Homo sapiens: one gene and its partners. The protein of the gene in region 1 interacts with the protein of each later gene in a pairwise test. Each region holds a gene or a part of one and is shown on either strand. Other genes may lie near its edges.

Evidence for each region. The genes of interacting proteins can lie anywhere in the genome.
Region 2: the proteins of TULP3 (region 1) and CLIP4 interact in a two-hybrid assay, tested with the Homo sapiens proteins (one large-scale study listed by BioGRID and IntAct).
Region 3: the proteins of TULP3 (region 1) and RIOK3 interact in a two-hybrid assay, tested with the Homo sapiens proteins (one large-scale study listed by BioGRID and IntAct).
Region 4: the proteins of TULP3 (region 1) and NFE2L1 interact in a two-hybrid assay, tested with the Homo sapiens proteins (one large-scale study listed by BioGRID and IntAct).

What each region holds. Positions count from the first base shown.
Region 1 is NC_000012.12:2,917,898-2,922,600, forward strand, and holds part of TULP3 (tubby-related protein 3), read left to right. Parts: intron 1-2,865; coding exon 2,866-3,025; intron 3,026-4,364; coding exon 4,365-4,505; intron 4,506-4,703. UniProt on the Homo sapiens protein: Negative regulator of the Shh signaling transduction pathway: recruited to primary cilia via association with the IFT complex A (IFT-A) and is required for recruitment of G protein-coupled receptor GPR161 to cilia, a promoter of PKA-dependent basal repression machinery in Shh signaling.
Region 2 is NC_000002.12:29,138,814-29,142,914, reverse strand, and holds part of CLIP4 (CAP-Gly domain-containing linker protein 4), read right to left. Parts: intron 1-4,101.
Region 3 is NC_000018.10:23,451,316-23,456,086, forward strand, and holds the start of RIOK3 (serine/threonine-protein kinase RIO3), read left to right. Parts: upstream 1-1,971; 5' UTR 1,972-2,124; coding exon 2,125-2,187; intron 2,188-4,771.
Region 4 is NC_000017.11:48,046,382-48,051,158, forward strand, and holds the start of NFE2L1 (endoplasmic reticulum membrane sensor NFE2L1), read left to right. Parts: upstream 1-1,977; 5' UTR 1,978-2,081; intron 2,082-2,399; exon of another isoform or gene 2,400-2,483; intron 2,484-4,225; 5' UTR 4,226-4,737; coding exon 4,738-4,777.

The sequences.
Region 1 (4,703 bases):
CCTTGCATGTGAACCCCATCTCTACTAAAAATACAAAAAAAATTAGCTGGGTGTGGTGGCAGGTGCCTGTTATCCTAGCTACTCCGGAGGCTGAGTCAGGAGAATTGCTTGAACCCAGGAGGCAGAGATTGCAAGTGAGTTGAGGTTGCACCATTGCACTCCAGCCTGGGCAGCAAGAGTGAAACTCCGTCTCAAAAAATAGCTACAGCATTCATTTTTGTTTTTGTTTTTGTTTTGAGACAGTCTCGCTCTGTCGCCCAGGCTGGAGTGTAGTGGTCCAATCTCGGCTCACGGCAACCTCTGCCTCCCAGGTTCAAGTGATTCTCCTGCCTCAGCCTCCCAAGTAGCCGGGATTACAGGCGCTTGCCACCACGCCTGGCTAATTTTATTTTTTAATAGAGACGGGGTTTCACCATGTTGGCCCGGCTGGTCTCAAACTCCTGACCTCAGGTAATCCGCCCACCTCGACCTCCCAAACTGCTGGGATTACAGGCGTGAGCCACCGCGCCCAGCCTACAGTATGTGATTTTGTTTCATCGATCATTTCACAGACTATGTATGAGATGAAATAGCTGTGGCCACATAGATAAGATATGGCAGTTTCTTATGATTTCAGTACTTCATATTTACCACCTTTTCAGGCAAGTTACTTTTTTTTTTGAAATGGAGTTTTGCTGTTGTTGCACAGGCTGGAGTGCAGGGGCATAATCTCAGCTCGCCGCAACCTCCGCCTCCCAGGCTCAAGCGATTCTCCCGCCTCAGCCTCCGAGTAGCTGGGATTACAGGCATGCGCCGCCACATCCGGCTAATTTTTGTGTTTTTAGTAGAGACGGGGTTTCTCCATGTTGGTCAGGCTGGCTTTGAACTCCCGACCTCAGGTGATCCGTCCGCCTCAGCCTCCCAAAGTGCTGGGATTACAGGCATGAGCCACTGTGCCCGGCCAGCAAGTTACTTTTTATCCATTATACAAGACCTCTTGGTTGCTAGAAGAATTTTTTTTTTTTTTGAGACAGAGTCTCGAGTCTTGCTCTGTCACCCAGGCTGGAGTGTAGTGGCATGATCTCAGCTCACCACAACCTCTACCTCCTGGGTTCAAGTGATTCTCCTGCCTCAGCCTCCTGAGTAGCTGGGATTACAGGCATGCGCCATGACGCAGGCCAATTTTTGTATTTTTCATAGAGACGGGGTTTCACCATGTTGGCCAGGGTGGTCTCAAACTCCTGACCTCAAGTGATCCACCTGACTCTGCCTCCCAAAGTGTTGGGATTACAGGCGTGAGCCACTGCGCCCGGCTGCTAGAAGAATCTCAGTGGCCAATTCTGTTTGGTGGAAGTCATTATAGCCTCCTGTGTATTTAGTGTTCCTGGGTTAATGTCCTTCTATTCATGGTAATTCATGAAATCTCAAAATAATCTCCAAACAACTTAGTCCTTGCTCTAACACCTATTCATTCTTGATGGTATATTCTGTATTGGCACGTTATCTTAACTCCCCAATCTTTTCCCTCTATATGCAAGCTATTGAATTAATCAGTGTGCTCTCATCAGCCCAGTTCAGGAAAAACACACTTCCTTTTTTGATAGTCTCACCCCTTGGAGTGACTCTTCTTCCTGGAGGCACTTTTCTAAAACAGTATCGATGGAAAAAAGTAAACAGATGGCTTCTTTTGCCTGAAAAACAGTAGTAAGTGGGTTATAATATATTTGTTTTTTAATCATGTCTTTATTTTTTAGCATGGGGCTTAACATTTTTCCTACTCTGAGTTATCCCAGATCAATAATAATTTCTATATATTATAAACCCTTATTTGCCAAAAGGTACTAGTACTATGTGCTAGTACCTTCCTTTCCATTTCATTGGTTTTTTTTTCTCATAGTCTGTCATGCTTGTTTCCTGACTTTTCTTGCTACCATAGTCTTTATCTTGCTTTTATTCATAGAGTTGACTGCTTTCTATTTGATATGTTCCAACTGCCATTTTTTTCTTCTCACCCTTGATCCAAATTTGATTTCTAATTATATAAGATAAACAAGAATGCCAAACTTACTGCCCTTTGACTAATTAGAACATGGAAATAATTTGAGTTTTAGAGAATAATAAAGTTTTTTTCTTCCATTTACAAAAGTAAGAAAACTTAAAAAAAAAAAAAGACTAGAAAAGAGAAAACAATCATGCCATAGTCTGCCACCTGAAGAAACCACCCTTGCTGTGTTCCTCCATCTGTCCTCCGTGCATGTGTGTTTGTATGTTTTGAGCTTGTGGTCACATTTGATAATGCTATGATGATTCCCATACATCTTTAGTAGACTTGGTTACAAATGCACTGTGTGGGACAGGTGCAGTGGCTCACGCCTGTAATCCCAACACTTTGGGAGGCCAAGGCAAGCAGACTGCTTGAGCTCAGGAGTTTGAGACCAGCCTGGGCAATGTCGGGAAACCCTGTCTCTACAAAAATACAAAAAATAGCTGGGCATGGTAGCACACACCTGTAGTCCCAGCTCTTCAGGAGGCTGAGGCAGAAGGATTGGGCGTGCCTTGGAGGTCAAGGCTGCAGTGAGCTGTGATGGTGCCACTGCACTCAGCCTGGGCAACTGAGTGAGACTCTGTCTCAAAAAAAAGAAAAAAAAAAGCATCATCTGATTTTAAATAGATCTTTATAGGTGTTAGGTGTTCAAAAGTATTTGTTAAATGAAATGATTGAATCCTTACTCCTCTCTGTGCCTCAGTTTTCCCATTTCTTAAATGGGGAAAAAATAATTTACAAGATGTTTTGTGAGGATCAGTGAAAAACAAACTGGGCATGTTGGAAATGGTTAGGTCATGTCAAAACTCTCCTTGCTGGCTGTCATATCGCTTTTTTCCCAGAGGCTACTACTTGAGAAGAGGCAAAGGAAAAAGCGCCTTGAGCCATTTATGGTGCAGCCCAATCCAGAAGCCAGGCTACGTCGGGCAAAGCCAAGGGCCAGTGATGAGCAGACTCCCTTGGTGAACTGTCATACTCCCCACAGCAATGTCATCTTACATGGTGTGTATTTAGGCAGCATCACTTCCTAGTGGGGTACAATTTTCACAAACCTAGAAGGCACGAGGATTGTCAGACGGACCAAAGGGACAATATTATTAGCACCATTACTAGGTACCTTCATAAATCTTTATAATCACATTTGGGGTCTTTGAGGAGAATAAAAGCAATGATATAATCAGTGGAAGATGCCTTAAGGTTTGCGTCCATTTTAGAACTGTTGTTTTCTTTTTTTTGAGACGGAGTTTTGCTTTTGTCGCCCAGGCTGGAGTGCAATGGCGCGATCTTGGCTCACTGCCAACCTCCTCCTCCCAGGTTCAAGTGATTCTCCTGCCTCAACTTCCCGAGTAGCTGGGTTTACAGGCGCCTGCCACCATGCCCGGCTAATTTTTTTATACTTTTAGTAGAGACGGGGTTTTACTATGTTGGCCAGGCTTGTCTCGAACTCCTGACCCAGGTGATCCACCCGCCTTGGCCTCCCAAAGTGCTGGGATTACAGGCTTGAGCCACCATGCCCGGCAAGAACTGTTGTTTTCTAGATGCCAGATGAATGAGTTTAGAATGACCTATTTGAGGAGCTCTTGATTGTTAAATCGTGGCAGAGGTGAATCATGAAGCCGGGAATAGGTAGAGAGCGTCCATTCTTCCAACAGATAGTTGAAAGGATCATCTGAGATGGGGAGGGGCGGAGGAAGAATAAGATTGTAAGTGCCTCTAAATCAAGCCACTGGAGCTATTGGCTTGTACAGGATCTGTACTATGGAGGACCTACTTTGTTTTCTTGGTCTCATTCTTAAGTTTCTGAAGTACATATTACTTCAGTTACTGAAGTACAAGTACATATGACTTTAGTAACAGAGCATGTTAATAAAATGAACACCAGGCTGGGCGTGGTGGCTTATACCTGTGATCCCAGCACTTTGGGAGGCCAGAAAGGCAGATCACTTAAGGCCAGGTGTTTGAGACTAGCCTGGGCAACATAACAAGACTCCATCTCTACAAAAAAATTAACAATTAGCCAGGTGTAGTAGCACACACCTGTAGTCCCAGCTACTCGGGGGACTGAAGTGGGAGGATCGTTTGAGCCTAGGAAGTCGAGGCTACAGTGAGCTGTGATTACACCACTGCTCTCCAGCCTGGGTGACAGAGTGAGATCCTGTCTCAGAAAAAAAGAACACCAGTTCTGACCTTCTCTCTTAACAAATGTTCTTATGGATGTTAAGAAAGGAGGGCAGATAAAATGATTTGGTAGTTCTTAATTCTGATCACATATGCCAAATCTACCCAACTAGTGAATAATACTTTGCTCCTTTTTTAAAATTCATTTTATTTTGGCCCTTAGGTATTGATGGTCCAGCTGCTGTCCTGAAACCAGACGAAGTTCATGCTCCATCAGTAAGCTCCTCTGTTGTGGAAGAAGATGCTGAAAACACCGTGGATACTGCTTCCAAGCCAGGACTTCAGGAGCGTCTCCAAAAGCATGGTGAGGACTGGTAATGATTTTAAGGCAATTTGTCTCCTTACTCAATTGTAATCTTTTCCTTTCTTTTCATTGTGGGTAACAATCTACATGACTGAAAATGACTCATGGCTTAGGGCCTCACAGAGGTGACAGTGTTTAGCATCTTTTACATCTGAATGTTGGTAATTGTCAGCAATGGTAGTATTTATACTGTTGCCT
Region 2 (4,101 bases), on another chromosome or scaffold:
TCATTTGCATGGTATATGTATCATAAAAGCCCTATCATATGAATTATCTGTCATCTTACATTCCCTAACCAAAAACCTTAGACTTCATGAGAAATAATTTAGATTGTAATCTTCTTTTAATATAAAGAATAAAGATACTTTTGTTAACTGAGAAACTTTTTTCCCTTTCTTCACTGATACAATCTTCTTCAAATGATTCACATGGAAAAATGAACGAGGCTTTTAGAACACACTTAGTTTGCAATTGCTTCGCATTTTTTTGTTTTAAAATTCAAGTCAGGTTGGTCCTTAGTAGAAATATGGCAAGAAGATATGTTATTAGATGTCTAGGATGGTAATGGACTCTTCTAATCCCAGATTTCAAGAAAACATACAAAATACAATAAAGATATGTGTTACACTAATGTATACTCTCTAAAAAACAGAGAGAGAAAAATAGGGAAACATAAAAATTTTTAAAATACACCCAGGCTAAGTTGTAAGCTATGCTTACAGTGAATATTTTACTTTGGACTTTTGTTATATCCCCACTTTTTGGAACCTGTCACACACTTCTGTTAATTCCCATACAATTCAACAATCGAAACTTCTGTTAAAAAAAAAAAACCTAAATAATAGTAAGAATAATAAAATAACAATGACGATATCTTCCTAAGACAAGAAGGCTTATTCATGATCAATTGTGGAATTCCACTTTCTTCTAAAGTGGTGGCATACCACCAGACTGGACCTATAAAAGACGATTAAGGGAGTTCTACACATGGAAACAAAAGAATAAAACTTGCTACCACAAAAGCATACTTAAGCACATAGTCTATGTTCTTCATAAAGCAACTATACAATTGAGACTAGGAGGCAACTAGCTAACAACACGACAACAGGAACAAAACTTCACATTTCTATATTAACCCTGAAAAAGGTTAATAAAAGATGATTAAGAGAGTTCTAAACATGAAAACAAAAAAATAATACTTGCTGTCACAAAAGCATACATAAGCACATAGTCTATAGACTCCATAAAAGCAACTACACAATCAAGGCTACAAAGCAACTAGCTAACATGAAACAGGAGCTCAACTTCACATATCAATATTAACCCTGAAAATAAACAGCCTAAACACAGCACTCAAAAGACATAGAGTGGGAAATCGGATTAAAAAAAAAGAAGACTTGTCCTTCTGCTGTCTTCAAGATACCTATTGCACAGGTAATGACACCCATAGGCTCAAAGTAAAAGGCTGGAGAGAGATCTATCATGCAAATGGAAAACAAAAAGGAGCAGATGATCACTATTAAACATACTTTAAGCCAACAACAGTCAAGAGGGACAAAGTAGGGCATTACATAATGATAAAGTGTTCAATTCAACAAGAAGACTTAACTATCCTAAATATACACACACCCAACACTGGAGCACCCAAATTTATAAAGCAATTACTACTAGACTTACAAAAAGATGTAGATAGTCACACAATAATAGTGGGTGACTTCAACACCCCACTGAAAGCATTAGACAGATCAAGGCAGAAAACTAACAGAGAAATTTTGGACTTAAATACAGCACTTGACCAGTTAGACTTAATAGGCATCTAAAGAATACTCCACCCAACAACCACAGAATATAAATGCTATTCTCATTTGCACATGGAACATACTCAAAGATTGACCATGGTCATAAAGCAAGTCTCAACAAATTCAAAAAAATCAAAATCACACCAAGAATCTCTTGGACCACCGTGGAGTAAAAATAGAAATCAATACCAAGAAGAGCTCTTGAAAACCACACAAATACATGCAAACTAGAAAACTTGCTCCAGAATGACTTTTGGGTAAACAATGAAATTAAGGCAGAATTCAAAAAAAATCCTTTGAAACAAATGAAAATAGAGACACAATATACCAAAACCTCTGGGATGTAGCAAAAGCAGTGTTAAGAGTAAAGTACAAAACGCCTGTATCAAGAAGACAGGGAGGTCTCAACAACCTAACATTGCACCTAAGGGAACTAGAAAAATAAGAACAGACACTCCTCAAAAGAAGACATTTATGCAGCCAAAAAACACATGAAAAAATGCTCACCATCACTGGCTATCAGAGAAATGCAAATCAAAACCACAATGAGATACCATCTCACACCTGTTAGAATGGCGATCATTAAAATGTCAGGAAACAACAGGTGCTGGAGAGGATGTGGAGAAACAGGAACACTTTTACACTGTTGGTGGGACTGTAAACTAGTTCAACCATTGTGGAAGTCAGTGTGGCGATTCCTCAGGGATCTAGAACTAGAAATACCATTTGACCCAGCCATCCCATTAATGGGTATATACCCAAAGGACTATAAATCATGCTGCTATAAAGACACATGCACACATATGTTTATTGCAGCACTATTCACAATAGCAAAGACTTGGAACCAACCCAAATGTCTGACAATGATAGACTGGATTAAGAAAATGTGGCACATACACACCATGGAATACTATGCAGCCATAAAAAATGATGAGTTCATGTCCTTTGTAGGGACATGGATGAAATTGGAAATCATCATTCTCAGTAAACTATCGCAAGGACAAAAAACCAAACACCGCATATTCTCACTCATAGGTGGGAATTGAACAATGAGAACACATGGACACAGGAAGGGGAACATCACACTCTGGGGACTGTTGTGGGGCGGGAGGAGAGGGGAGGGATAGCTTTAGGAGATATACCTAATGCTAAACGACGAGTTAATGGGTGCAGCACACCATCATGGCACATGTATACATATGTAACTAACCTGCACATTGTGCACAAGTACCCTAAAACTTAAAGTATAATAAAAGAAACAAAATAAAAAATAAAAATAAATAAATAAAAACACGTTAAAAAAATAAATAAGAACAAACTAAACCCAAAGCTAGTCAAAAAAATAACTAAAATTGGAGTACAACTATATGAAACTGAAACCAAAAAAGGCATTCAAAGGATCAGCAAAATGAAAAGATGGTTCTTTGAAACAATAAGATTGACAGACTGCTAGCTAAAGAAAAAAGAAAGATCCAAATAAGCACAATTGGAAATGATAAATATGACATTACAACAATCCCACAGAAATGTAAAAGATCCTCAGCAACTACTGTGAATACCTCTATTCACATAAACTAGAAAATCTAGAGGAAATCTAGAAAATCTAGGAATCTAAATTCCTAGAAACACACAACCTTCCAAGAACCAGGAAGAAAGTGAAACCCTGAACACACCAATAATTAGTTACAAAATTGAATCAGTAATAAAAAACCTACCATCCAGAAAAAGCCCTGGACCGAATGGATTCACAGCCAAATTCTACCAAACATACGAGGAGGAGCTGATAACAATCCTACCAAAATGATATGAAAAAACCAAGGAGGAGGGATTTCTCCCTAATTCATTCTATGAAAGCAGTATCATCTTGATACCAAAATCTGGCAAAGACACAACAAAAAAGAAAACTACAGGCCAATATCCCTGATAAACACAGACACAGAAAACCTCAAGTTACTAGCAAACCAAATTCAGCAGCATACCAAAAAGATAATTCACCGTGATCAAGTCATGCAAGGAGGTTCAACGTATGCAAGTCAATAAACGTGATTCACCACATAAACAAAATTAAAAACTGTAGGATCATCTCAATAGACACAGAAAAAGCAATCAATAAATTCCAACACCCCTTCATGATAAAAAAAAAAAACCTTCAACAAATTAGGCATTGAAGGAACATACCTCAAAATACTAAGAGCCATCTATGACAAACCCACAGCCAACATCATACTGAACGGGCAAGTTGGAAACATTCCTCCTGAGAATTGGAACAAAACAAGAATGTCCACTGTCACTACGCCTATTCAACATAGTACTGGAAGTCCTAGCCAGAGTAATTAGGCAAGAAAAAGAAATAAAAGGCACCCAAATAGGAAAAGAGGAGGTCAAATTACCTCTCTTCACCAACAATATGGTTCGATATGTAGAAAATTCTAAAGGTTCTGCCAAAAAAAACCTCCTAGACCTGATAAACAACTTCAGTAAAGTTTCAGGACACAAAATCAATATACGAAAATCAGTAGCATTTCTATA
Region 3 (4,771 bases), on another chromosome or scaffold:
ATACAAAAATTAGCCGGGTGCAGTGGCACGCGCCTATAGTCCCACCTACTCGGAAGGCTGAGGCAGAAGAATCGCTTGAACCCACGAGGTGGAGGTTGCAGTGAGCCTTGATCATGCCACTGCACTCCAGCCTGGCGACAGAGCGAGACTCTATTTCAAAAGAAAAGAAAAGAAAAGAAAAGAAAAGAAAAGAAAAGAAAAGAAAAAAGTTAAAAAAAAAAAGATCTGACCTCTCTCCTTTACATTCAAAACAAAACAAAAAGAATATTCAGATTCTTAGTTTTATTTTCGACTTCCTGTCCTTTTCTGATATATCCCCCAAATAGTCTCTCACTGGCACATTTTTGTCATACACTGCATCTCAGCCTTAGCCTTTCTTTCTGGTCTGGTCTTTTCCTTTTAATCTTTTTTCTCTTTTTTTTTTTTGAGACGGAGTCTCACTCTGTTGCCCAGGTTGGAGTGCAGTGGCATGATCTTGGCTAATTGCAACCTCGGCCTCCCGAGGTCAAGTGATTCTCCTGCCTCAGCCTCCTGAGTAGCTGGGATTACAAGTGCGTGTCACCACACCCGGCTGCTTTTTGTATTTTTAGTAGAGATGGGGTTTCACCGTGTTGGCCAGGCTGGTCTCAAACTCCTGACCTCAGGTGATCCACCCACCTTGGCCTCCCAAAGTGCTGGGATTACAGGCATGACCCACCACGCCCAGCCCTCTCCTATTTTTTCCTAGCCAGAATTGAGAAGTCCATTTCTATTAATAGTTACACCCATTTTTCTTAAACTATTTATCGTCCAATTATAATCCTTTGAACACTAGGAAGGAACACAATTTCCACACACATTCACATATATAGGCAACATTTGCCAAGCACACATCTGCACCCTATCATATGGCTATAGTTTGCCTTATTGCAGTAGGGGTATTTGGAGGATTCAGAACATGTTTTCACCTGGAATGGAAAGGAGGCAAAGATTGTGTGCTAATGGAAATCATTAAGATCAGTAACCCAGGGCTCTCAAGTATGGACAGTTAGAGATACTGACTCGGAACTGAGATTTAGGGAAAACAGTTATTCAGTACCTATTTCTAGAATGTTTGAATATACAACATATAGACAGTGTATAGTTTATAGTCAAAATATAATGTACAGCCAGTCCAGTTCCCAAACCGATTGTCTGGGTTCACCCCTTATTAGCTTTGCCACTTGTTATCTGTGTGACCTCAACTAAATTACTTTACCTCTCTGTGCCTCAGTTTCAATATCAGTAAAATAGAGATAATGACAGAATTTAGCTCTCACGGTAATTTTGAGGACTAAAAAGTTAATGAAAGATTTGAACAGTGCATTGATATACTAAGTGAAATGCAATGTTTAGTTATCTTTTATCTGGTCATTTTATTAGAATCTCTACAAAATACAGAAACAAAAGTTTTATTATGCAGTCTTATTTTTGTTCACTGTTACGTAACACATTTTACACATTTTCCGCATTCCACGCCCCGCCCTTCAACAACAACCACCACAAACTCCGACCGTCCTTTCCAGGCCCTTTCCCTCTATAAACCTGCCGTTTTCTGTCTCCCAAGTCATCCCAGTTTAGAACTGCTCCAGGAAATAATGAATGAACAGAGAGAGCCTAGTTTGTTTATTTATTTACAATCCACTAGTCTAATCTAGTTTAGATCCAGCGGCAATTTTTGGGGTGCCAAGGAGGAAAGAAGGAGATGGCAGTGCGGGGACAGGGCAGAGCCTGGGCCAAAGGAAGCCACACCCAGTTCTTGCCCTGCCCTGCCCGACACAGGCAACGTGACCCCAAGCGACAGCCAGCTGATGCTTGCTTCTCCGAGCCCGGCGGTCAGCAGCCGGAAGTAGCCCGCCCGGGGGCGGGGAAAGGTGCCTTAAGGAGGAGCTAGGGGCGTGCGGCCAATTGCAAGCGACTGTCCTAGCGAAGAGGGCGGAAGAGGAGAGATCCAGTTCCGGACGCGGCCGCCGCCGTCGCCGCCATCTGTCACCTCCACTCCGGCATCAGCAGCCAGTCGCCCGTGTCCCGCCTGTCTCCTCGGCGGAGCCTGCTGCCCGTCCTGCCACCTCTCTGCTCTGTTCTTGTCTCTGCCTTCATTCCCGAATGGATCTGGTAGGAGTGGCATCGCCTGAGCCCGGGACGGCAGCGGCCTGGGGACCCAGCAAGGTAAGTGGCAGACGAGACTGGAGTACTAGCCTTGGTCACACGGGCTGGATCTCTCGGAAAGCTCGGAGAGGGCGGCTTCGTGGGCGATTCGGGAAGTTCTGGGGCGGGACCCCGCGGACCTCGGCAAGGGGGCACTGGCCGCGGGGGTGCCGGGATGGGGATGGAGGGAGCGGAAAGAGGGGCGGAGGGCGGCTGGATCTCCCAAAGGCCACCTTGAGTGGTTAGGGCTCTCTATTTCTTCAGCGTACTTTCTGTATCACCGTAGCATGTATTTGAGCAGGACTGGCTTACACACCCTGATGATACTGGAGGGGAAACAAGCACGATCTTGTTTTTCACTGGCCAAGTGAGTCAGCCGAATACACAGCTAGCCAGACAGAAAGTTGGTTTAGGAAGCTGTTTACTTAATTTGATAAGTGTGGTTATCCCAGTTTGGAAATGTCTTGTTTTTGAAGCAGTAAAAGATAAAACCCAGGCGCACCCTCCTCCCTCGACGCTGAAATTCAAGTGCGCACCACGGACTGTAAAGTGCTTATGAATTTCATTATCTGCCTAAGCTTTGACGTTTAAACTTTTTCATAGAGTGGCAAACTAAAGACCTTTATTTCACATTTGCTTTCTGGTTTCCAGGCAGGTCCTTTTCATGATACTTTGATTATATGGATGAAAACACTTTTCTGCCACTTTATGGAGGGTCTGCTTGAGAGCAGAGTGCTTCCATTGGGATTTTTTGTTCCACAAATTAAGGTCGTAAAGGAGTCTAGCTTTTTTAGCTTCATAGTTGTTCTTTACATGCTAACACAGAATATTTGTTCCCATTTAAAAGGTCTTATTAGATCTTCAGGCTAGGCCTTAACAGGAAAAGGGGTCAATAATTAGCTATTAAGTAACCAAAAGTTAATTTTGTAAAAGTTCTCGTACAGCTGTTGGAAGAATCTGAGATACTGCGTTGGCAAATGTGGTTAAGTCTGCATGTTATTTTGTGTATTTTTCCTTGAGACCTTGTTTACAAGGTCAAGATTAGCAGACATAAAAGGATGAAATCAGTAGACAGACTAGTATTATGAATATATACCCTGTATGTTAAAGTCCTTCAGTTAAGCATTGGCAGAGGCTGGTAAAAATGTCAAATGAGACAGACTCTATTCAGAATACATCCTAATCTCAGAACAAATTTCACTTACAAACTAATTCAGTAATAAACTATTTAACAGTCATATTTTTATTTAAGTGTACATCATCAGAACTATAAAATTCCATTTTCATTGTGCAACAAAAATGCTTCTGGGATTTATAGACGCTCTATTGGGAGGACAGTGTTTTGAAAGGCAAAACAATTAGAAACAGGCTGAAAGTACTATCATTAATCCTTTTTTTCTCTAACCTTTTGGAAAACCAAAGTGATTACAGAAGCCTACATGGAGGAGGTGAAGATTTGAGGAGGGTTTTGAAAAATGGAAGGATTCTCAAAACTTTTTAGTCAGGACTTCTTTCCTTCCTTCCTTCCTTCCTTTCCTTCCTTTCCTTTCCTTTCTTTCCTTCCTTTCTTTTCTTTCCTTTCTTTCCTTTTCATTTATTTATTTATTTGAGACGGAGTCTCGCCCTATCGCCCAGGCTGGAGTACAGTGGTTTGCTCCCAGCTCACTGCGACCTCTGCCTTCCGGGTTCAGGCAATTCTTGTGACTCAGCCTCCTGAGTAGCTGGGATTACAGGCGCCTGCCACCACGCCCAGCTGATTTTCGTATTTTTTTTTGTAGAGATGGGATTTCACCGTATTGGCCAGGCTGGTCTCAAACTCCGACCTCAAGTGTCCACCCGCCTCGGCCTCCCACACTGCTGGGATTACAGGCGTGAGCCACCATGCCCAACGTCTTTCTTTTTTTTTTTTTCTTTTTCTTTTTTTTTTTTGAGACGGAGTCTCGCTTTGTTGCCCAGGCTGTAGTGCAGTGGCGCGATCTCGGCTCACTGCAAGCTCCGCCTCCTGGGTTCAAGCGATTCTCCTGCCTCAGCCTCCCGAGTAGTGGGACCACAGGTGCCCACCACCACACCCGGCTAATTTTTTGTATTTTTAGTAGAGGCGGGGTTTCACCGTGTTAGCCAAGATGGTCTCGATCTCCTGACCTCGTGATCCGCCCACCTTGGCCTCTTTCTTTTTTAATTGAGACAGGGTCTCACTCTGTCACCCAGGCTGGAGTGCAGTGGCATGATCACATCTCACACTGTGCCTTGACCTTGCAGGCTCCCACCTCGGCCTCCTGATTAGCTGGACTACAGGCCAGTGCCACCACACCTAGCTAATTTTTGGGTTTTTTTTGAGACGGAGCCTCGCTCTGTCACCAGGCTGGAGAGCAGTGGCATGATCTCAGCTCACTGCAACCTCCGCCTCCTGGGTTCAAGCAATTCTTCTTCCTCAGCCTCCCAAGTAGCTGGGACTACAGGTGCATGCCACCATGCCCAGCTAATTTTTATATTTTTAGTAGAGATGGGGTTTCACCATGTTGGCCAGGATGGTCTCGATCTCTTGACATTGTGATCCTCCCACCTTGGCCTCCCAAAGTGCTGGGATTACAGGTGTGAGCCACCG
Region 4 (4,777 bases), on another chromosome or scaffold:
TCAATCTCCCAGCTCAAGAAATCCTCCCACCTCAGCCTCCTGAGTAGTTGGGACTATAGATGTGTGGCACCAAGCCCAGCTTGTTTTTTTGTAGCGACGGGGGTCTCACTATGCTGCCCAGGCTGGTCAAGCAATCCTCCCGCCTCGGCCTCCCAAGGTGCTACTGTGAGCCACTGCGCCGGGCCCAGTTCTATGTTTAAAATACTTCCTTCTCAACCTTATTTATTTTTAGAGTTGATGGCCACACCTAAATATTCCTCCTTTCTTATACAATACCAGTCTTTATCTTCATTGTCTCACTACTTCGGGGACTGAATGGTCTCCTATTTTATTGTTAACATGCCATATCCTTCAAAACTGTACATCCTCCAAGGTGTGGTTAATTTCTGCTTTTAACAGGAAAATCAGAGGCCTGCCTGCTTGAGTCCCCCTTCAAGTACTCAGTATTTGAGTGTCTACTAAGTTATAACAGTTAACGCACAAAATTCTAGTCCTCATGTTGTTTATACTCAGGTATTTATTGGGAGACACGCGTCAGTAGTCCCTGATAAATGGAAAGATCGCTTGAGTCCAGGAGTTCCAGTCCAGCCTAGAATAGGTAAAACATGCTCTCTGAATTAGTCTTTGAAACTGGTAAACTAGCTCAGAAGTTTTTTTAAGAATTCCATGAGTGGTTTGCTGGTGTACGTTTATTATATGCAGTGAAAGTACTTAATCTGCAAACCACCCCAAATTAAGCCCCTAACTCGCAAGCACAAAATGGACTCGATTATTTACTGAGTTATCAGTTGGCCTTGTCCTTAGTTGTACAGGGACTAATGACTCACCTATAAATAATGGGCTCTTCTAAGAAGACACAGTTGAGTTGACACCTCTTTGTCCTATAGCTGGGAGGAACGCATTGCAAACGCCAACCCAATGATTCCCTAAATGGGGTCTTCGCATCAGCTGCGTTAAAATCACCCCAGCAGGCAGGTTATCCGGCCGCCACTCCAGGGTCATTAAATCAGACTCTCCAGTGGGACCTCGGAATTCGTAGCTTAGCAAGCTCCCCAAGTGATGCTGGGAGTAAACTAACGTTTGAGAGTCACAAACATGTTTTGGCAATATAACCAGATGGGACTGGAGAAATTAAAAAATGAGAAACATCCCTAAAAAAGCAAGACTAAGCTGCGTGGGAGGCCAAACGAGGGGGGTCCTTTGGGCTGTTTCTACCATGACAAAAATCGCCATTACCCCACACCTCTCACACCGCCAACGTTCCGCCAACGTTCCGCCAACGTCCCACCACCCTCATGATATCCGTCCGCGGTACTGCTCCAGCGAAGGTACCCTTGCCTGGGCCATGAGGCGCAACCGTCCCTCACAGCTGGGGTGGCTTCTCCAGGTTCGCACCGAGGGGAAGTTGGGGTACCGGTTTCCGCCGCCAGCACCCAAGATGGCGGCACGAGCGTCGCAACCACAAGAACCACATGCTTCGTGTCCCGCCTCAGCATTCTCGGGTCTCACTAGACTTTTGCAAGTCACTGTGGGAACCCTCAAGGCGAGGGTGTTCCGCACTCTGGCGGCGATACACCTTCCTATTCCCTGACCTAGGCCTTCATTCCCCCGCCACAGAAAGCGCTGGAAGCGCCCAACCTGGATACTTCACCCAACGCCCAAGCCCACTAACATCGCCCGCCGCGAAGGCGCGGCCGAGGGGCCCAGAATGCCAGACACTAGGGCCTTCGCCCTCCTCATTGGTGGGTCCATACCGCGGGGCGGGCCTAGGTACTCATTGGGCCGGGAATTATGTCAGTCTTGGGAAATCAGGTCCGGGGATGAGGAGGTACACTCAGCCATTGGGCCCTCTCTGCTGCCAATCAGAGGGACATCCGTCGACGGCCCCGGCCTCGGCTCGTTGATTGGAGAAACTGTTCCTAGGGTGTTTGCGGCGGGCGGGTTTCCGAGTGCGGTAGCAGGAGGGGGCGGGGAGGTAAGCGGAGGCTCCGAGCTCTAGGCCGGCCGGCGGTGGCGGCGGCGAGGCCGGGACTCGGGCTTAGGGCCTGCTGTGGAGGCAGCGGCGGACGCCGAGCTAAGCAGTGGGTATCGGGCACATTCCTTTCCCAGAAGGGAGGGTTGCAGCGCCGCGGGGCCGAGGCTTATGGGGCGACGGGATGGTGCTGAGGTGCAGGAGGCGGGGGCCGAGCGGGGTTCCCGCCAGAGCCCGGCCCTGGGCCTGACAGGGAGGGGCCCCGCGCGGGGCCGAGAGGAAAGCTGGCTCCGGGGTGGGATGGACTGGGCAGGGTTGAGGGCACGAGAAGGCGTGGTGTGAGGCCTGGACTTGGGAGTGGGGTGGGGCCATCGGGACGGAGGGCGGGGTGGGGTTTGCTGTAAGGGTGGGTCAAGGCCAGGGAAGTAGCACTTGTTCGCTGGCCGCCCCTGGAGGCTAGAAGCTCCGGCGCCGAGAGTGGGCATGGCGACTTGGTCTCAGCCGGACTCGGGTATCCGGGCAGGGTGGGACCAGCCTCAGGCTATGGGCCCTGCACCTACTTGATTTTTAAGGGACTTTGTCCGGTTCCTCGAACTTAATTGGCTCCTGGGAGGTTTTAGTAATAAATTGCGTGAGAACGGGAGGGTAGCGTAAGCAGGAATTCTGGGTCGCAATTGTGTTTACTCTGACCAGAGAGAGGGAGTGTGAGTGTGTGTGTGTGCGCACGTTCGTGTGTGTACGTATAGCTCGCTCTCCCCCTGTAGAATGAAGTTGGTAGATGGGTCACAACGCAGGAGAGGAGAGGCGGTATGTCTTGGTTTGTGACATTAATGGAAGCTCAAAAGTGGAGACCAGAAACAGATTTACTTCCTCTGCACTGGGCAGTCTGGCTAGAGAACGTGGCCATATCCTTCTGCTTTGGCTCAGAAGGTCATATGAATGAAAATAAAACCTGCCTATGCAAATTCTGGACGGAATAGTCCTGCGTAGTAGGGCCCCCACCATCCCTCTCCTTTTTTTCTTTCCTTTTCTTTTCTTTCTTTTTTTTCTTTTTTTGAGACGGAGTTTTGCTCTTGTTGCCCAGGCTGGAGTGCAGTGGCGCGATATCGGCCCACCACAACCTCCGTTTCCTGGGTTCAAGCGATTCTCCTGTCTCAGCCTCCCGAGTAGCTGGGATTACAGGCATGCGCCACCACGCCCGGCTAATTTTTGTATTTTTAGTTGAGATGGGGTTTCTCCATGTTGTTCAGGCTGGTCTCAAACTCCCGACCTCGGGTGATCCGCCCTCCTCGGCCTCCCGAAGTGCTGGGATTACAGGCGTCGGCCCTTTTCCTTTTTTTTCTTTTGTAAGTTGTGAGGATAGGAAAGGGAAATCAGATTTCAAAGTTCAGAAAACAAAAGGCATTCTTCTTCTGGGTGAAGTGGTGGCCTGAACATTGTCCTTTTGTCCTTCCACACTCTCACTGTTTAATAATCTTGCCTTTTTGAACTGAGAAAAGACAACTGTTATGGGTGGTTTTCTCCCGAGGGGTGAAAATCCAGCTTTACTTTTAAGACAGGAAATGGGCTTCTCATGTGAAAATAGAAGCTGGGTAATGCGCCTGTAGTGGGGGAGGAGGGCTGGTAAATAAAACAAAGGTGTAAGATATTTTGGATGACCTGGTTATTGTCTGCTTATTCAAACCAAGCTACATTTTAGGATATTGCACATTTAATATTCAGTAACTGAGATCATTCGTGATCAGTAGCTTTCTTTGATAGTTCTTCTATGATCGGTTGCTATATTTTGGGTTTTTTTTCTGAGAGTGTAAGTAGTCCTTTCTTCCTGTAAAAGTGGCCTTTAGGCCAGGCACAGTGGCTCACGCCTGTGATCCCAGCACTTTGGGGGGCCGAGGCGGGCAGATCACCTGAGGTCAGGAGCTTGAGACCAGCCTGGCCAACATAGTGAAACCCCATCTCTACTAAAAATACAAAAATTAGCAGGGCGTGGTGGCAGGCGCCTGTAATCCCAGATACTTGGGAGGCTGAGGCAGGAGAATCGCTTGAATGCAGAAGGTGGAGGTTGCAGTGAGCACAGATCACGCCACTGCACTCTAGCCTGGGCGACAGAGTGAGACTCTGTCTCAAAAAAAAAAAAAGTGAAAGTGTCCTTTGAATGTGTTTTCTACCTTCTACTGTGAAGGTTTTCCTACCCTGATCATGATGTGAAAAGTATGGAATCTTATCCTGTTGCTTTTGTGATTCCCATTTCAGGTTTCTCTGGAAACCCCCCTGGTAAGTGTGGAGGAGGCGGGACACTCTGACCCAAGACGAAAGGCCTGTAGCTCCAGCCAAAGAAAATAAACCTTAGGAGGGAGAAGGAAAAAAAAAATCCATCAGCTGTTCCTGAGAACAGCCTGCATTGGAATCTACAGAGAGGACAACTAATGTGAGTGAGGAAGTGACTGTATGTGGACTGTGGAGAAAGTAAGTCACGTGGGCCCTTGAGGACCTGGACTGGGTTAGGAACAGTTGTACTTTCAGAGGTGAGGTGTCGAGAAGGGAAAGTGAATGTGGTCTGGAGTGTGTCCTTGGCCTTGGCTCCACAGGGTGTGCTTTCCTCTGGGGCCGTCAGGGAGCTCATCCCTTGTGTTCTGCCAGGGTGGGGTACGGGGTTTGACACTGAGGAGGGTAACCTGCTGGCTGGAGCGGCAGAGCAGTGGCCTTGATTTGTCTTTTGGAAGATTTTAAAAACCAAAAAGCATAAACATTCTGGTCCTTCAGCAATGCTTTCTCTGAAGAAATACTTAACGGAAGGACTTCTCC